Linked DNA regions of Homo sapiens. Each later gene encodes a partner of the first gene's protein in a complex. Each region holds a gene or a part of one and is shown on either strand. Other genes may lie near its edges. A codon is read from its position in the direction of its gene.

Region 1 (7,641 bases):
AGTGCTGGGTATATAATATATAATCAGTAAATATTTGTTGAAAGAATGAAAAAACTATCAATTCATTCAGGCTTATAAATCAGAATTGCTTCTTGGCTGAGCACAGTGGCTCATACCTGTAATCCTAGCACTTTGGTAGGCCAAGGCGAGTGGATCTCTTGAGATCAGGAGTTCAAGACCAGCGTGGGCAACATGATGAAACCACATCTCTATAAAAAGAAAAAAATATATATAAATATATATACATATATAAAATAATTGCTTCTTTCCAGGTGCTTCTAATCTGATATCACAGGATCCCTATCTGGAGACAAGTAGCATGATGGTTGCTTTCATTAACACCATTCTCTTTGGCTATGGATGATTCAAATGGCCTAATCATCTCTTTTATCATCCATTCATTAATGCCATTTATTGTGCCCTCTGTAGCAAATTTCTCTTGAAGTAATTTCATTTTGTCCTGTTACAGGTATTATTGTAACAAGCTTCTTTAGGTTTACTACTTTCTCTTCTCTCTCTCTCTTTTTTTTTTTTTTTCTTTGTAGGGATGGATTTTTGCCATGTTGCCAGGCTGGTCTTGAACTCCTGAGCTCAAGAGATCCACTTGCCTCAGCCTCCCAAAGTGCTAGGATTACAGGCACGAGCCACTGTACTGGACCATCTCTTCTCTTTCATTTGTTCTGCAGTAATTTACCTTATTTAAGCTTCAGGGAGGTTTGCCTTCTGGCTTTACCATGTACAAGAACTGACTGTTACTCTCTGCCTGTTTTGTACAGGAGCACAAAAATGAGGCAGCAAACGCATTACTTTTCTTTATGCTGATGCTCTGGAAAATATTATGCCCTAAAGAGGGAGGTTAACTGTCCTCCTTGCCCTTACCACTATAAACCAGACAGAAATTTAAAATATGGAAACAGTGTTTTTTATTCTGTGTCAGGGTTTTAAACTTGGTCAACCTCCCGGAACTGTATGCCTATTTTATACTTTAATCGGTTTATGTACATGTTCATTTTTCTGGAAAGGATCTATATTTTTATTAGGTCCTTAGAGAAGTCAGAGATCCCAAAAAAGTGCCCTGGGCTTTGTATCCTGCTTTACTTCTCCTTGTAAGTGATCAAATCCACAAGGCTGATTGTGTTCTTTCTCTAAATCACTTTGTGTTATGACTTCAGGATGCATCTTGAACTTTGTTTTCAAGTGAACTTTGTAAACAAGTCCTCAGCTTAAAAGACATTTTGAACTATATTAATAATAAATGCATCATAAAATTTCCTGTTTGATAAAGGAGGCATCTGAGATAATTATGCAATGCACTTAGCTACTCACATTTTAGTTATTCTTATTAATATCATTGATATTTATTATTTTTCAATGCTTCTCTGAAAGACCTGAGTATGGCCACTCTGGCTTTAAGAACTGTGTCCACAGTGCTAGCTGAGAAACCACTACCACATATTTTTTTAAACTCCAAACTTTACTAAGAATCAGGCTTGGATATAGGGCCTAAAAATCATTCAATTGGAATGTGAAGAAGTTGAAACACCATTACGCAAAAACCCTTTAGCATATGTGTATGTGTGTCTCCCTAATGTCAGGATGTACACATTTATTACAGTGGTTTGGAGGTTTATTTGTAATCTGACCTTTTGAAATTCTGGAGCACACAAAAAAAGTAGATCTTCATTAACAAGGATTTTTTTTTCTTTTTCTTTTCTCTTTTCTTGCCAGAAATTTAAAGATGTTTCTTCCTTCACTTCCTTCCTTCCTTGTACTGTCCTTGCTCAACGTGAATCTACAATCACTGCCACTTGAATGGATGCAACTTATGTTAATAAATTGCCAGGATCAGAACTCCCACTGCAGCATTTCCTTCTCCATAGAACCACTGAACCAGAAATGCATTCTAGTGATTTTTTTTTGTCGTTAACGATGATTAATTAAACAAACTCGAGATTTCACGAGAAAAAACATAGATGCCCAGATTTAACAAACTCCTTATCTTTTTTCGACTTAAACCCACGAAGCTTTGGGGAGCACTCTAGCCCCTGCTACTCACCCATGCAAGCGGGGTGCGCGCTCGCGCACACACTCACTCACTCCAAGATAGGGGCTTTCTAGGAAAATACTTTGAGCTGCCAATCCAAGATTTTACTTAAAGAATTGACTTGGTTCTCAAGTGACAGATCTCTAAGTGCCAGAGCGGCAAAGTGCACCAGGCTGATAAAGTGCATGCCAAGACTCTCAGGTGGGAATTCTTGTCACAGCCAAGAGGTTGCTGGCATAGGCACCCGAGGCTGGCAGAGCCTAGCCTCTGAGTCTCCCTACACTCCTGGGCTTGCTTTCCTTTTTGAAGCTGCCTGCAGCTCAAAGAGGAGTTTGAACCAAGGGCACTTGCTTCGCGATCCTCCTGGCAGAGCCACAGCTCAAGTTTCCCCCACGGAATCACGAGCTTTTGTAAAGGGCAGCGAGGAGGCAGCGAGGTGGCAGCGAGGTACAGTCGCAGAGTTCTCTGGAGAACGAACACCCCCGCCGCGCCCCACCCCCCAGGACTGGTGGAGACTGGAAGGAACGAGTCCAGACCACGGGACCTTCCCTGGCCGTGGGCCGACGCCTAGCTGTCCTTGACCTCCCCAGCAGTCGGAGGCGCGCGCGGGAGAAATGAAAGTAAAACCTGTCCTGGCGCGGAACCAAGTGGAAGCTGGCGACAAGTAGGTCGCATCCTCAGAGCGACTGATAGCCAGTCCTGGATCTGCGCGAAGAGCTTGACTCGCAGAGGATAAAGTGAAAGGAAAAGGAAATGGGAGACAAGGGAGAAGAACAATAGTTAGGCTGGGGAGGCTCCTGGTCACCGAGCAGGCGTTCAGTAATAGCTGCTGTCTGCGGTGCAGACGGACTAGTCGCCCGGCCAGGCCACTTCGGTGACTGCCCTGCGCCCAGCCGGGCGGCCGGATCCAGACCAGTGCGCCGCGCTGCACTCCTCTAACCCTCCGCGTCCCAACCCCTTACCAGGGCCAGGGTCAGGGCCCGGAATCTGTCCTCCGTCCTCAGATGGAATTCAGGTCCGCTCAGGTGACTCCTTCCAGGAAGAGTCCTTAAATAACTTCCGCGCGGCCATTTCTTCCCCAGGTGCAATGTCCACTGTTGAGTCCCGAGAGTGAAAAGGCAGCTAAGCCAGCAGTGCGCGGCCCAGACAGACCACTCTGGGCAAGGTCCGCGCGACCCACTGCCCAGCCGCCTTTGCACCGGAGCTCAGAGCCATATGGCAGAGTAGGAAGGAAGCTTAAAGGTCTGCTGGGGACCGGCTCTAAGATGGGGACTCGAGAGATGGGACATGACTCGCCCACCTTCACACAGCGAATTGCCGGGAGGTGAGGACTAGAAGCCTGTTTGGCTAGTGGTCTCGCACCTTTGGCCTCTCCGTCGAGTCGCTGGGCTTCAGGACATTCGATTAGAGGAGTGGTTAGTAGGACCCCAGAAACCCACAAGCACGAAGCAGGAAGCCCCGTGGCTTAGCCTTTCCTTCCCAGTTTGGCCCCCAGGAGAGAAGTAAGAAAGAGAAGAAGCTGTGATGAAAGAGCACAAACGGGTGACAAACGTGTCTAGCGTGATTCATCATGAACAGGCACAAATTCTTTGGGCGGGGGCTAGGACTCTCCTTTGCCCCTTGAGAAGTTGGTGACCCCAGCCTAGAGGAATCCACGCCGCGCCCCAGTCGGCCGTGCTAGCGTGTCGGGCCGAGTAGGGACTCTGCTGCTTCCTACCTGCAGGGTGACTTCCCCTCTCTGCAGATACCTCCCCTCTCTGAGCTTGAATTTTCTACCTGCTGAAATGGGAAAAGGAATGTTACCTTCCTTGCCTGACTCAAGGGTGGCTGTGAAGCTCAAAGTAGACTGGGATGTGGCCGTGCTTGGTAAACTGTAAAATGATTAGCATACGTGAAGCGTTAGTGTGCTCCCTGGCAGTCAGTCCTCACGTTTACGATGGATTAATGAAGGCAGCCAGGCACAATCTCAGGTTATGACCTTATAAGGCATAATAGGATTACAAGGAGGCAAAATGAAACAGTATATTTCCTCCTAATTTTGGTTATTCCTATGTTTCCAAATAGAAATGAAAATTCTGAAATTTCAGATAATTCCCCCCTCCAAATCCCAATTCTCAATTTAGCTTTTCTGAGCCTTGTCCCTACCGTGAAATCTTACTAGCTCACCCCGAAACGCCGGGGTCTTGGTCCTCTGGGGGACTAGTGAGTCCTGCTCCTCTCGGCTTTGCTCCGTCCCTGCCCCGGCCCCTCCGCGGGAGTCTGGGGTCGCGGCCCGGTCAGGCGCCAAGCCGGCAGGGGGGCGCGGTCCACTTGAGGCCACAGCTCCCCAGGTCCAGGGCTCGGGCCATCCGCGCTGTCCCTTCCGCGGGCTCTTGCTGTTCTTCGCCAGGAGGCTTTGCACTCCGGGCCGCATGGGTCCTGGATAAGGACCTCAAGAGGTTGTAGTGGCGCCCCTTCGCTCCGGCGTACTGTCTGAACCCTGTGCCCAAAGAGGGCTGTGGCAGTTCCTGCACCAACCGCCTGGAGCCCATACCTAAGCCCTCTGGGCACGAGGGACCTCCTCTCCCCCGCTCCCCCCTCCCCCCATCCCAACTCCAGCCCCAAAGGAAGCAATGCGCGCGTCCGAGAGCAGGAGCGCGCGTGGCTGAGGAAAGAAAGGGAAGGCAACCGGGCAGCCCAGGCCCCGCCCCGCCGCTCCCCCACCCGTGCGCTTATAAAGCACAGGAACCAGAGCTGGCCACTCAGTGGTTTCTTGGTGACACTGGATAGAACAGCTCAAGCCTTGCCACTTCGGGCTTCTCACTGCAGCTGGGCTTGGACTTCGGAGTTTTGCCATTGCCAGTGGGACGTCTGAGACTTTCTCCTTCAAGTACTTGGCAGATCACTCTCTTAGCAGGTAGGTGCCGCAGACCCTGCGGGTTAAGAGGTGGGGTGGGGGGCAGTGCTTGCCAAGGCCCTAAACTGGGAGCGCTGGGTGAGGGGAACAACCCACTTTGGAGGGTTCTCTGAGAGATAGATACACCCCATATCCTGGGCCCAGCTCGTGCACACAGCTGGAGGTCCAGAGACCCAGTCCCCTCTGCTCCGTCAGCCAAGTTCCAAGAAGTTGAGCAGAGACCCTCTGGGAGCCTGGCGGGGTGCAGCGGCCTCCCCTGCGGGGCCTGTCACCCGGCCGGCGCGTGCAAACGCCTCTGGCGCCTCTCTGCGCGGAGGGAGATAAGCGTCTGAGCCAGGGAAAGCGCGGGCTAAACCCGCCTCGCCGGGGCCCCTGCCCGCCCTCCGTGCCCCGCCCGGGCGGTGCAGCTGGCCCGGGTGCTCACGCTCGACTCTCTTTCTTCTTTTCCAGGGTCTGCGCTTCGCAGCCGGGATGAAGCTGGTTTCCGTCGCCCTGATGTACCTGGGTTCGCTCGCCTTCCTAGGCGCTGACACCGCTCGGTTGGATGTCGCGTCGGAGTTTCGAAAGAAGTGAGTCCGGGCAGCGCCTTCCCCCTTGCTGGTACCTGGCAGGCAAGGGGAACTGACCGTTGGTCCCGAAGGTCTAGAAGTGAATGGGAGCAGGGACAGGCCTGGGCGTCACCTGAACGCACGCGAATCGGGTCTGCTTGTGTTTTCCAGGTGGAATAAGTGGGCTCTGAGTCGTGGGAAGAGGGAACTGCGGATGTCCAGCAGCTACCCCACCGGGCTCGCTGACGTGAAGGCCGGGCCTGCCCAGACCCTTATTCGGCCCCAGGACATGAAGGGTGCCTCTCGAAGCCCCGAAGACAGGTAACTACGCCCTGTGCTGTCCAGGGACGGGAGGGAAGGAAGGTGTGCGGGAGGAGTTCTCTGTCTCCACTCCCCTGGCCCGGGGGATCGTCGGGGCTGGACCGCAGCTCAGATGGCGCGAGCAGTTTCCAGCTCCCTCTGGCTCTAGAATGGCTCCCGTTCCCGGTGTTGGGGCCAAAGCTCTGCTTGATGGGGTCTCAAGTTGCCTTTCTTCCCCCTCCCCCCGCCCGCAGCAGTCCGGATGCCGCCCGCATCCGAGTCAAGCGCTACCGCCAGAGCATGAACAACTTCCAGGGCCTCCGGAGCTTTGGCTGCCGCTTCGGGACGTGCACGGTGCAGAAGCTGGCACACCAGATCTACCAGTTCACAGATAAGGACAAGGACAACGTCGCCCCCAGGAGCAAGATCAGCCCCCAGGGCTACGGCCGCCGGCGCCGGCGCTCCCTGCCCGAGGCCGGCCCGGGTCGGACTCTGGTGTCTTCTAAGCCACAAGCACACGGGGCTCCAGCCCCCCCGAGTGGAAGTGCTCCCCACTTTCTTTAGGATTTAGGCGCCCATGGTACAAGGAATAGTCGCGCAAGCATCCCGCTGGTGCCTCCCGGGACGAAGGACTTCCCGAGCGGTGTGGGGACCGGGCTCTGACAGCCCTGCGGAGACCCTGAGTCCGGGAGGCACCGTCCGGCGGCGAGCTCTGGCTTTGCAAGGGCCCCTCCTTCTGGGGGCTTCGCTTCCTTAGCCTTGCTCAGGTGCAAGTGCCCCAGGGGGCGGGGTGCAGAAGAATCCGAGTGTTTGCCAGGCTTAAGGAGAGGAGAAACTGAGAAATGAATGCTGAGACCCCCGGAGCAGGGGTCTGAGCCACAGCCGTGCTCGCCCACAAACTGATTTCTCACGGCGTGTCACCCCACCAGGGCGCAAGCCTCACTATTACTTGAACTTTCCAAAACCTAAAGAGGAAAAGTGCAATGCGTGTTGTACATACAGAGGTAACTATCAATATTTAAGTTTGTTGCTGTCAAGATTTTTTTTGTAACTTCAAATATAGAGATATTTTTGTACGTTATATATTGTATTAAGGGCATTTTAAAAGCAATTATATTGTCCTCCCCTATTTTAAGACGTGAATGTCTCAGCGAGGTGTAAAGTTGTTCGCCGCGTGGAATGTGAGTGTGTTTGTGTGCATGAAAGAGAAAGACTGATTACCTCCTGTGTGGAAGAAGGAAACACCGAGTCTCTGTATAATCTATTTACATAAAATGGGTGATATGCGAACAGCAAACCAATAAACTGTCTCAATGCTGATTCATTCTCTCGGCTCGGCTCTCACGTCTAGGAAGGGAGGGTGCCCTGGTCCCGGCCCGCCCAGGAGCCTTGGGGTCCCGCCGCCGGGCTTGGGAAGGTGGGACAGCGGCGCGTGCAGGTGCTGGCCCTACTCTGAGCGGGCTGAGCTGTCACGAGCTCTGTTCTCTGTGTGGGGCGCGCAGAACACGTGTCCTGGGTGCGAATCAGGGCTTCGCGGAGACGCCCGAGGTCACCGCCTGGCGTGGCGGCCGGCGGGGGGTGGGTAGGGGGAGCCCTAGTGGGTTGGCGAGCCTGGACTCTCGGGTTGCGCAACGGAGTCCTAGATTTATAGGGTTGCTCACAGAACCCGGCGCGAAAGCGAGCTTCGAAGAGTTGGGGTGGTCTCTGAGGCCTTCTAAGAGAGGCGTTCCCCCTGCCTGCCGCGGTTGTTAAAGTTCCAAGCCGCCCTAGCAATGCGTGGGGACACCTCCGGAAAACCCAGTAACCCCTAGTAACCCCGGGTCTGCCCGGGCCTGAGCGCCCGCGGGCCGCTG
Region 2 (7,549 bases), on another chromosome or scaffold:
ATGGTTTAATAGCTTCTCTGAATGCCAAGCATAAGATACGCAATAAAGCAAAAGATTTTAAATACTATTTCTTGAACATATTTGTATTGTGAAAAGTCGATACTGTAATCATTATATCTCCAAAACCAGAATTATTTGATAAAGCTGTATTAAAAGTCATATATAGAGTATGAAATAAATTTTGTTTAGTGAATAAGTTTTTGATCCTTTAAAGATTATTATATTTTTTCTATAAAGATCTAGAACAATCTTTTAAAATTAAGTTACTATCAAACTTTTGCCATGTAGATAAAATTGGTAGCAAAATATTTTTACAATGTTTCCAAATATGATCTAGTTAGAAATATATAATGATGCTATTAACTGAAATTCAGTTAGTGTTTATGTGTTTATCAAATACTTTGTCCACATTAATCTGTAAAGCAAACAAGGTAATCATTTTACCTTTATATTATTTTCAATTTTTTATGAAATTTTATTTCTGTTATGCATGAAAAAATAGTATAATATGTGCAGGTGAACATAAATATTCTTACAAATATGCTAAGTATTGTCTTCATTTAAAATTCATTACATGTTCGGAGTCACCAGTGAGAAAACCATATGAATCTTGCCCATTCATTTAAAATAATTTTTAAAATTACAGACCCAGTATTATTTTAAACAATGTTTTTGTTATTCCAATTTTTCAAAGTGAATGAACAGTTTCATATATTATAAAAATCTACATATTTTAACTTTTAGTATAATGCTTTGGTATGTAAGATAGAAAAAAAATCTTGTAACAATAATCAAAAACATTATCTCTTTAAGAAATAGAATATTTCAGGTAAAACATATTTCAGCTCACATTATTCACATACTATTTCAATTCTATGTTTCATTTTACATATTTAGCATTGACTGTAGGCTCAATGCATTGATTTTATGATGCTACAAGGAAACATCTTCTAGCAAAGTAAATTCATTTCTTTATGGCTAAAAGCATGCATTGATATTCTGATATTTTCTTATCATTAAAGAAAGCACATTTTGAATACAATAATATGAATTTTTATTTCAAACTTCCAGTTATGTCCTCAAATATTTCCTTTGGCTAATGACCTTCAATGTTCATCGCCTAGTGTTTTTCAAAAGTATTTTTGGAAAACAAAGATTATAAACCATACTGTTAGTAAACTCATAAAAATTTAATCAAATTATACAAGAAAATTATGGGTTTGGGACTAGCAATTAAACAAAAATTAAGGAAGTTTGGAGAGTTTCTCATTATAAAATATGATCATAATATAATACCTCCTAAGAAAATAATCTGAATTAAAAATAATGTTGTTTTAATTTTTGTTACTAACCCACGTCATTGGGTTAGTAAATGTGTTGTTTCCACTTTCTCCCCCATTTATATAATGGCTAAAGTCACATTCTAAAAACACTTTTCCCATTTCTACACATGTGTCAGGGAACTCAGTACAACTGAAGATTGAAAAGAGAGAGAAATCAGCCATGATACTCTTAAAGAATCACAAATCTAAGAATTAATTTAAATTTTCATTATATTGAGGAATTTGTGGAAAAATTGAGTTGTAAATTACTGAGGAGTTACTCAGGATGTTTGTAGTCTATTATTAATGTGCCAGATATAAGTGATTAAGTACAGGATGCTTCCAATGCAGGACATCTTGGAAAGTATAATTGCATTTAGGTAAGAAAATATATAACTTAAAAATCATATCTATCAACATCATTTAAAATTTGACATCAAACTTTCTCCAGCAACAAATTTGTGATATATCTACACAAACAATTTATTAAGCAGACATTAGTTTCTTAAATTGTTCAGGACAGTCTGTACTATCGGAATGAGCATTAACAGATGTTTTATCCAACATTTCAGTAAGTTCCATCCTGGAAATTCTTTTTTAATAAATACTTTAATTTCTTTGTTTAATCGTCTAATATACTTCTTTGGGAAAGCTGTCACGTTTCTTTATCCACAGATATCGTGGTATCACACCCCCCTCCAAAAGCTTGCAGAGGGGAACCAGTCAAGTTGAAGTATTCTCTTAAAGATTTCAAAATTAAGAATTGTTTTAAAAATCTACATTTCCTAAACTCTAGGTTTTTTTTTTTCTTTGTAGCCGACACCATGATCCAAATAAAGAGCAAACAGTTCAGGGTTAGCAGAAGAGAGATTTAAACACATCTGGCAACAATGAACACAAAAATTAGTTCAGTAGTTACAGATATATGTGTAAATAAAGGTGAAAGGCAAATAAAAGCAAATGTAATAAATACAAAGTGATTACTTTTCAAAACTCTGCATTATGATCAACCACAGAGTAAGTGAGACTCCGAGACCCATTAAGTAGTTATTCTTTCACCTCTTTCTTACAGCTGATAACATGGAAAGTTTAAAGACCCTTCCGGGGGGAGAAATGTTTTCCAGTTGTCAAGATTCAAGCTTAGCTAATATTAGAGCTAATTTTAAAAGACATTGTTCTGTGATTAAGGTATTTGTTCAGAAATATGTCTTTTAATCCATTTAGATTTTTAATACTTGCTAAATTTATTTTCTAGAATACCATGGTAAACAATATTATCTAGTAGTATTAGATTTTGTATTCATGTTGGGGTAGTAGGCTGTATTTTCTCTAGCATGTGAAATAAGTGAGACTATGTTTCAACATTATTTCAGTGCTATCTACTAAATTCTATAATAGAAACATTGCCAAACTATATGAGAATACTACTTAGAATAAATATATTTATTTTGAATGTGCACTTACCCAGTCCAGCTCTTAAGGAAATTCTTTGTGAAATATTCTCAGGATGGAACTTTACTTTCTGAGATTCCGCAGAAGAGATTTACCCACAAGCAAGGTGGGAAAGAGTGAAAGCTTTGCAATGTGATCCTGCAATTAGGATGAGATTCAGTTAGCAGAGCTTGATGGTCCTAAAGCAGGAGGTGACACTCTCTGCTGGAGAGAGAGAGGTTGTTCTGAGTAGATTGTAAGTGTTGTCAGATTGTAAGTGATCAGCAGCAGAAGGGAAACATCAGAGCTTCCTGTTACATCACTCTGACCCCGCCTGCAGTTAGTGTTAGGTTACTTTCTTTCTCAAATAGCATACCCCAGGAAAGCAGCACTCCTTTCTTATTGTGAGACAAGAGCAAGAAGCAGCCTGAACAGAGAGAGATCATAGGCTGTGTGAATACATTGTTACCAGTAAAAAGCTGGCTGGCTTTCACCTTGACTGAGTTCTGTTAGAACTTGCCAAACAAGCTACTTGTGATTTGAAGGAAATCTGAATATAGTATTCTGCTCAAAGAATCAAAGGAGTTAGGCGTGTGTGTGTGTGTGTGTGTGTGTGTGTGTGTGTGTGTGTTGAATTATAGCTTACAAAGTATCCAGGAAAAAAAATCTAACAAATCTGTGTTCATAGCACAACACAGAAAAAAAAATTAACTGTATTCATCATAACTGGTTTTGTGATTTGGCTCTTCTTAATTTGGAGCTCTGCTAATTGGGTGCTGTTCCTCCATCAGTTCCTAAGTGCAGTTCCTAATCAGTTAATTAGATCAAGAAACTTTATCCTGCAGTTTTTAAATCTTTTATTTTTTCCTTTACCTTCTTCATAAGAACATGAGTGTATGTGTTATAAATTCAGGTTGTGTATGTGTGTGTATAGAGTGTTTCTTTTATAATATATAAGTATATATATTTGACAAAATAGCCTTTTGAATAATTCATAATTTTAAAATTATTGCACACATTTAAAAATATTTGGTATAATTATGTTATTTATAATATAAAATAATTTATACCACAATATTTGTAAGTCAATATAATCTTAAAGAAAATATAGATGTTGTAAACATAATATTATAAAATAATATAAATACAAAGGATACTTTATTTCTTAGACAAAATTTCATCTCAAAGCATAGTTTTTCCTGAATATGTTTAATACATCATTGGATATGATCAGGGGAAAATGTAAATTTAAAATGCTTTTATCATTTTTATAATTTGGTAAATGTTCGATATGAAGCAATAATTATAATCCCTATAACCTAAACAGCACTAAAAGTCACTTAATTTATCAGGGCATAAATTTTCTCATCTATAAACTAGAAGAGATAGATTTTATGTCTAAGGCTTTGAATCGACAAATTTCATAACATTTTGAAATAGATAAGATACGGTGAGGATCATTCAACTCTTAGTAAATTGTTAGTGCAATTCCAGGATAAAATGAGGTGCCATACACCTTGTAGGCAGACAAAGGAGGTAAAGGCAAAATAAATTCAGGAATATCATGTTTTTAAAGCAGGGTGCTCATGTTGACATTTTTATTGTCTGAATTAGTGGAAGAAAATGTTTATACAATCTTTGATTTTAAGACCAGTGAGATCAATATTGATTACAAAATACAGACATATAAAAAATAGATATACTTTCATCTCTATAATTATGGTTAATAGAAAAGACTTGTAAGAAACTGAGTTACACTGGTGAACCGGTTCTGATACTGTCTGGTGTGATCTTGACAAAGCTTTTTAGGCTTCATGTTCCCATCTTGAAATTCAGAGAAAAACAAATACTAGATTTAATATGAAAGTAATAATGGGTCATGTCTTCTCATCTTCCATGCTAAGTGTAATATATGAATCCTATAAAGAGATTAATATATAGTTTTTGAATTTAATTAAATCATGGAAAACTAAAACTTTTCCCAATATGTTTATAAAAGCATTGATATTTTCGTCTTTCCAAAGATTCATTTTTCTTTCTTTCCTTCCTTCCTTCCTTCCTTCTTTCTTTCTTGATGGAGTTTTTGCTCTTGTTGCACAGGCTGGAGTGCAATGACGCAATCTCAGCTCACTGCAACCTCCACCTCCCGGGTTCAAGCAATTCTCCTGCCTCAACCTCCCAAGTAGCTGGGATTACAGGCGCCCGCCACCACACCCAGCTAACATTTTGTATTTTTTTGTAGAGACAGGGTTTCACTATGTTGGCCAGACTGGTCTGAAACTCCTGACCTAAGGTGACCCGCCCACCTTGGTCTCCCAAAGTGCTGGGATTACAGACATGAGCCCCTGCGCCTGGTGAGATTCATTGATTTCATTTGCCCAATACTAGTAAGGTCTACTGAAGGAAAAAAATTCATGTTTTGAGCTCATGTCATAAGACCCTTAATCCAATGCTCTTTCTCTTCTACTCTCTATCAAGTGCTATACTTTATGGGGTGTCTAGTAGAAGTTGTATCATTTATATTTAAGTTGACGTACACATGGGCCCATGGCTGTAGTCCATGAAGACTCCTTGATAAATTTTATTAATATCATCTTTAATTCTTATTTAGACATAACAGGAAAATTGCATCCTAGTAATCCTCAAGAGCTGCCATTTTATAAACTTCAGAAAAAATAAATGGTACAAGGACTTCCAGGAAGGCATTCAGGGTATTCTAAGTTATGTAGGAGCAAGTGATAAGATAGATCATAAAAACTTCTCTAATACCTACTGAAACATGAAGGCAAATGTTTGGAAAACTGTAGCAGAGCTAAATGAAAACATTTCAATAATCAATGAAGCAATTTTGAGCCAACGTGGCATTATATGGATTTATATATTATAATCTTTCTTCAGAAGACATTAAAGCCACTTGCAATAATTTAATTAGTAGTGACCAAATTTGTATTTTGAGCTAGGTAATGTGCTAACTGTGTTTTAGTGAGATAAGTAAAAATAGAATGTTCCCTGCTATCTAGTCCTTTAATGAACAGATTGACTAGCACATGAGAAGTCAAGGGCCAAATTCTGTGAAATTAGCAACTGATGCTGCTAACATAGAATCTAGAGGTAATGATGCAGAGCACTGCAATAAGGTTTTCTGTAGAAGTGAGGAGTGGTGTATAAGTGTAGAAATATATACATGTAATGATGGACAGTCACACATTTTCATTTTAGCATCCTACATGCAGGATTTGTGCTTTTATTTGTGCTCACACATAAGGCTCACAAGCGACCTTTTCTTCCAATAGGGGATACTAGTTACTATGTCAAATGCAAGTTGACTCAAAATTAGGAGTAGGCTAACTCCAAGTTTCTGGGCTACTGTTTATATTGAATATGTTAGTTAAACCAGACCAAAATGTGGTTTGACAAATTTAATTTTCTACTGACCAAACTGACCACTTATTTTGAATTTGTATGGATACTGCCTTGGAGCATAATTCTTGCCACAAGAACAAACAAAATAAAGCAGAACACTTTTACAGGAAATATATTAAGGACAGACTTTCCCTAGTGAGAGTGCAAGAACAAGTCAAAAGAAAGACTTTTAAAATAATTATTCTGAAGTTTTAAAAGTTATTATTTTATGTTAATAATTCTTCTGTGTTCTTAATTGTCTGAAAGCAATTACTTATACTTGGTGATAATTTATGCAGTCAGCAATATTATATATAACTTGCCTTATGATAAATGCACCAATAATTTGAGGAGAAACACATAAACTTTACATCAGAAGCTTATATGTTTAAAAGCTTTACATTAAAAAACTACTTCTAGCAAGGAAATAAGTTGACCCAACCTTTTATTATTTTACCTAGCAATTGCTGTTAGCACTTTTCAAGTTGCTTTTCAAAACAAAAATAAATTGCATTTAGTAAAAGAATCTGGGTACAATGTCTGGGACATGAGAGTGAATATGCTATTATCTATTACTAAAACCAAAGGGCCGTTTTTCACTTTAATTGGGCACATAGCTATCATTTTAAAGAAGATTACAATATTATTTTAAAAATAGTTACTATGAATAAGAATTTGGAAGGTGCAGAAAACTATGTTTGAAATGAACAGTATATATATCAGGTCAGATATACAGAAATGTATACCAGGTTAATATACAGATAAATAAAACTATTTTATAGCCTATATGTAGAGTTTCTTTCAGTATTTAATAATGTATTTTCTCAAGAAAGCCAAGTAACATAAAAAATAATTGGCCAAACATTTGCCTATTTTAAAAATTCTTATATCCTGATGGATTTAGATCTTCCTGCGAACTTAGTATTTTCTTACAGATATTCATGAGTGTTGGAGGGGTGGCTATTGCTAGAATAAAGTGCTAGTACTGGCTAGTGAGCTATGTCATGGACTAATTCAAATGGATTTTTAAATCCAACAAAATTATAAATGCTTACTTTAAATGGGAGTACACAATGAACTTTCTGAGGGGAAATACCTTCAATAGAGTGATCATATGTCCTAGTTTTCTGGGGCAGTCCCAATTCATAATTTCAGGCTCAAAAATGCTCTGGTTTGAAGAAAAAAATATTATTCAGTATATGGTGAACTTAGCCATACTTATCAATAGAGCAATGACAAGTAGCACATAAATACTAAGAGTGTGTGAGTAATTTATTTGGGAAACCCAAATCTTCTTTCCAGAAGAGTTTAAAATAGTTCTTACTATTTCTAGGATGGTTTTAGTTAGCATCAAAAAAGATGCCCTTTTTAATTCTGGATATGCATTTAATGTG

What was found. The genes of interacting proteins can lie anywhere in the genome.
Region 2: the proteins of ADM (region 1) and CALCRL are in contact, whole or in part, in a cryo-EM structure (PDB 6UUS), measured with the Homo sapiens proteins. Residues at the interface, in NP_001115.1 of Homo sapiens: Cys110 (codon at 6,122), Arg111 (codon at 6,125), Phe112 (codon at 6,128), Gly113 (codon at 6,131), Thr114 (codon at 6,134), Cys115 (codon at 6,137), Thr116 (codon at 6,140), Val117 (codon at 6,143), Gln118 (codon at 6,146), Lys119 (codon at 6,149), Leu120 (codon at 6,152), Ala121 (codon at 6,155), His122 (codon at 6,158), Gln123 (codon at 6,161), Ile124 (codon at 6,164), Tyr125 (codon at 6,167), Gln126 (codon at 6,170), Phe127 (codon at 6,173), Thr128 (codon at 6,176), Asp129 (codon at 6,179), Lys130 (codon at 6,182), Asp131 (codon at 6,185), Lys132 (codon at 6,188), Asp133 (codon at 6,191), Asn134 (codon at 6,194), Ala136 (codon at 6,200), Pro137 (codon at 6,203), Lys140 (codon at 6,212), Ser142 (codon at 6,218), Pro143 (codon at 6,221); in NP_001258680.1 of Homo sapiens: Val36, Thr37, Asp70, Gly71, Trp72, Asp90, Tyr91, Phe92, Gln93, Asp94, Phe95, Asp96, Pro97, His114, Ser117, Thr120, Trp121, Thr122, Tyr124, Thr125, Asn128, Val135, Ala138, Leu139, Leu141, Phe142, Thr145, Thr191, Leu195, Ala199.

The regions. Positions count from the first base shown.
Region 1 is NC_000011.10:10,300,290-10,307,930, forward strand, and holds ADM (pro-adrenomedullin precursor), read left to right. Parts: upstream 1-4,783; 5' UTR 4,784-4,940; intron 4,941-5,390; 5' UTR 5,391-5,411; coding exon 5,412-5,509; intron 5,510-5,659; coding exon 5,660-5,809; intron 5,810-6,042; coding exon 6,043-6,352; 3' UTR 6,353-7,108; downstream 7,109-7,641. UniProt on the Homo sapiens protein: Adrenomedullin/ADM and proadrenomedullin N-20 terminal peptide/PAMP are peptide hormones that act as potent hypotensive and vasodilatator agents. Numerous actions have been reported most related to the physiologic control of fluid and electrolyte homeostasis.
Region 2 is NC_000002.12:187,445,253-187,452,801, forward strand, and holds the start of CALCRL (calcitonin gene-related peptide type 1 receptor precursor), read right to left. Parts: upstream 3,001-7,549; 5' UTR 2,787-3,000; intron 1-2,786. UniProt on the Homo sapiens protein: G protein-coupled receptor which specificity is determined by its interaction with receptor-activity-modifying proteins (RAMPs). Together with RAMP1, form the receptor complex for calcitonin-gene-related peptides CALCA/CGRP1 and CALCB/CGRP2.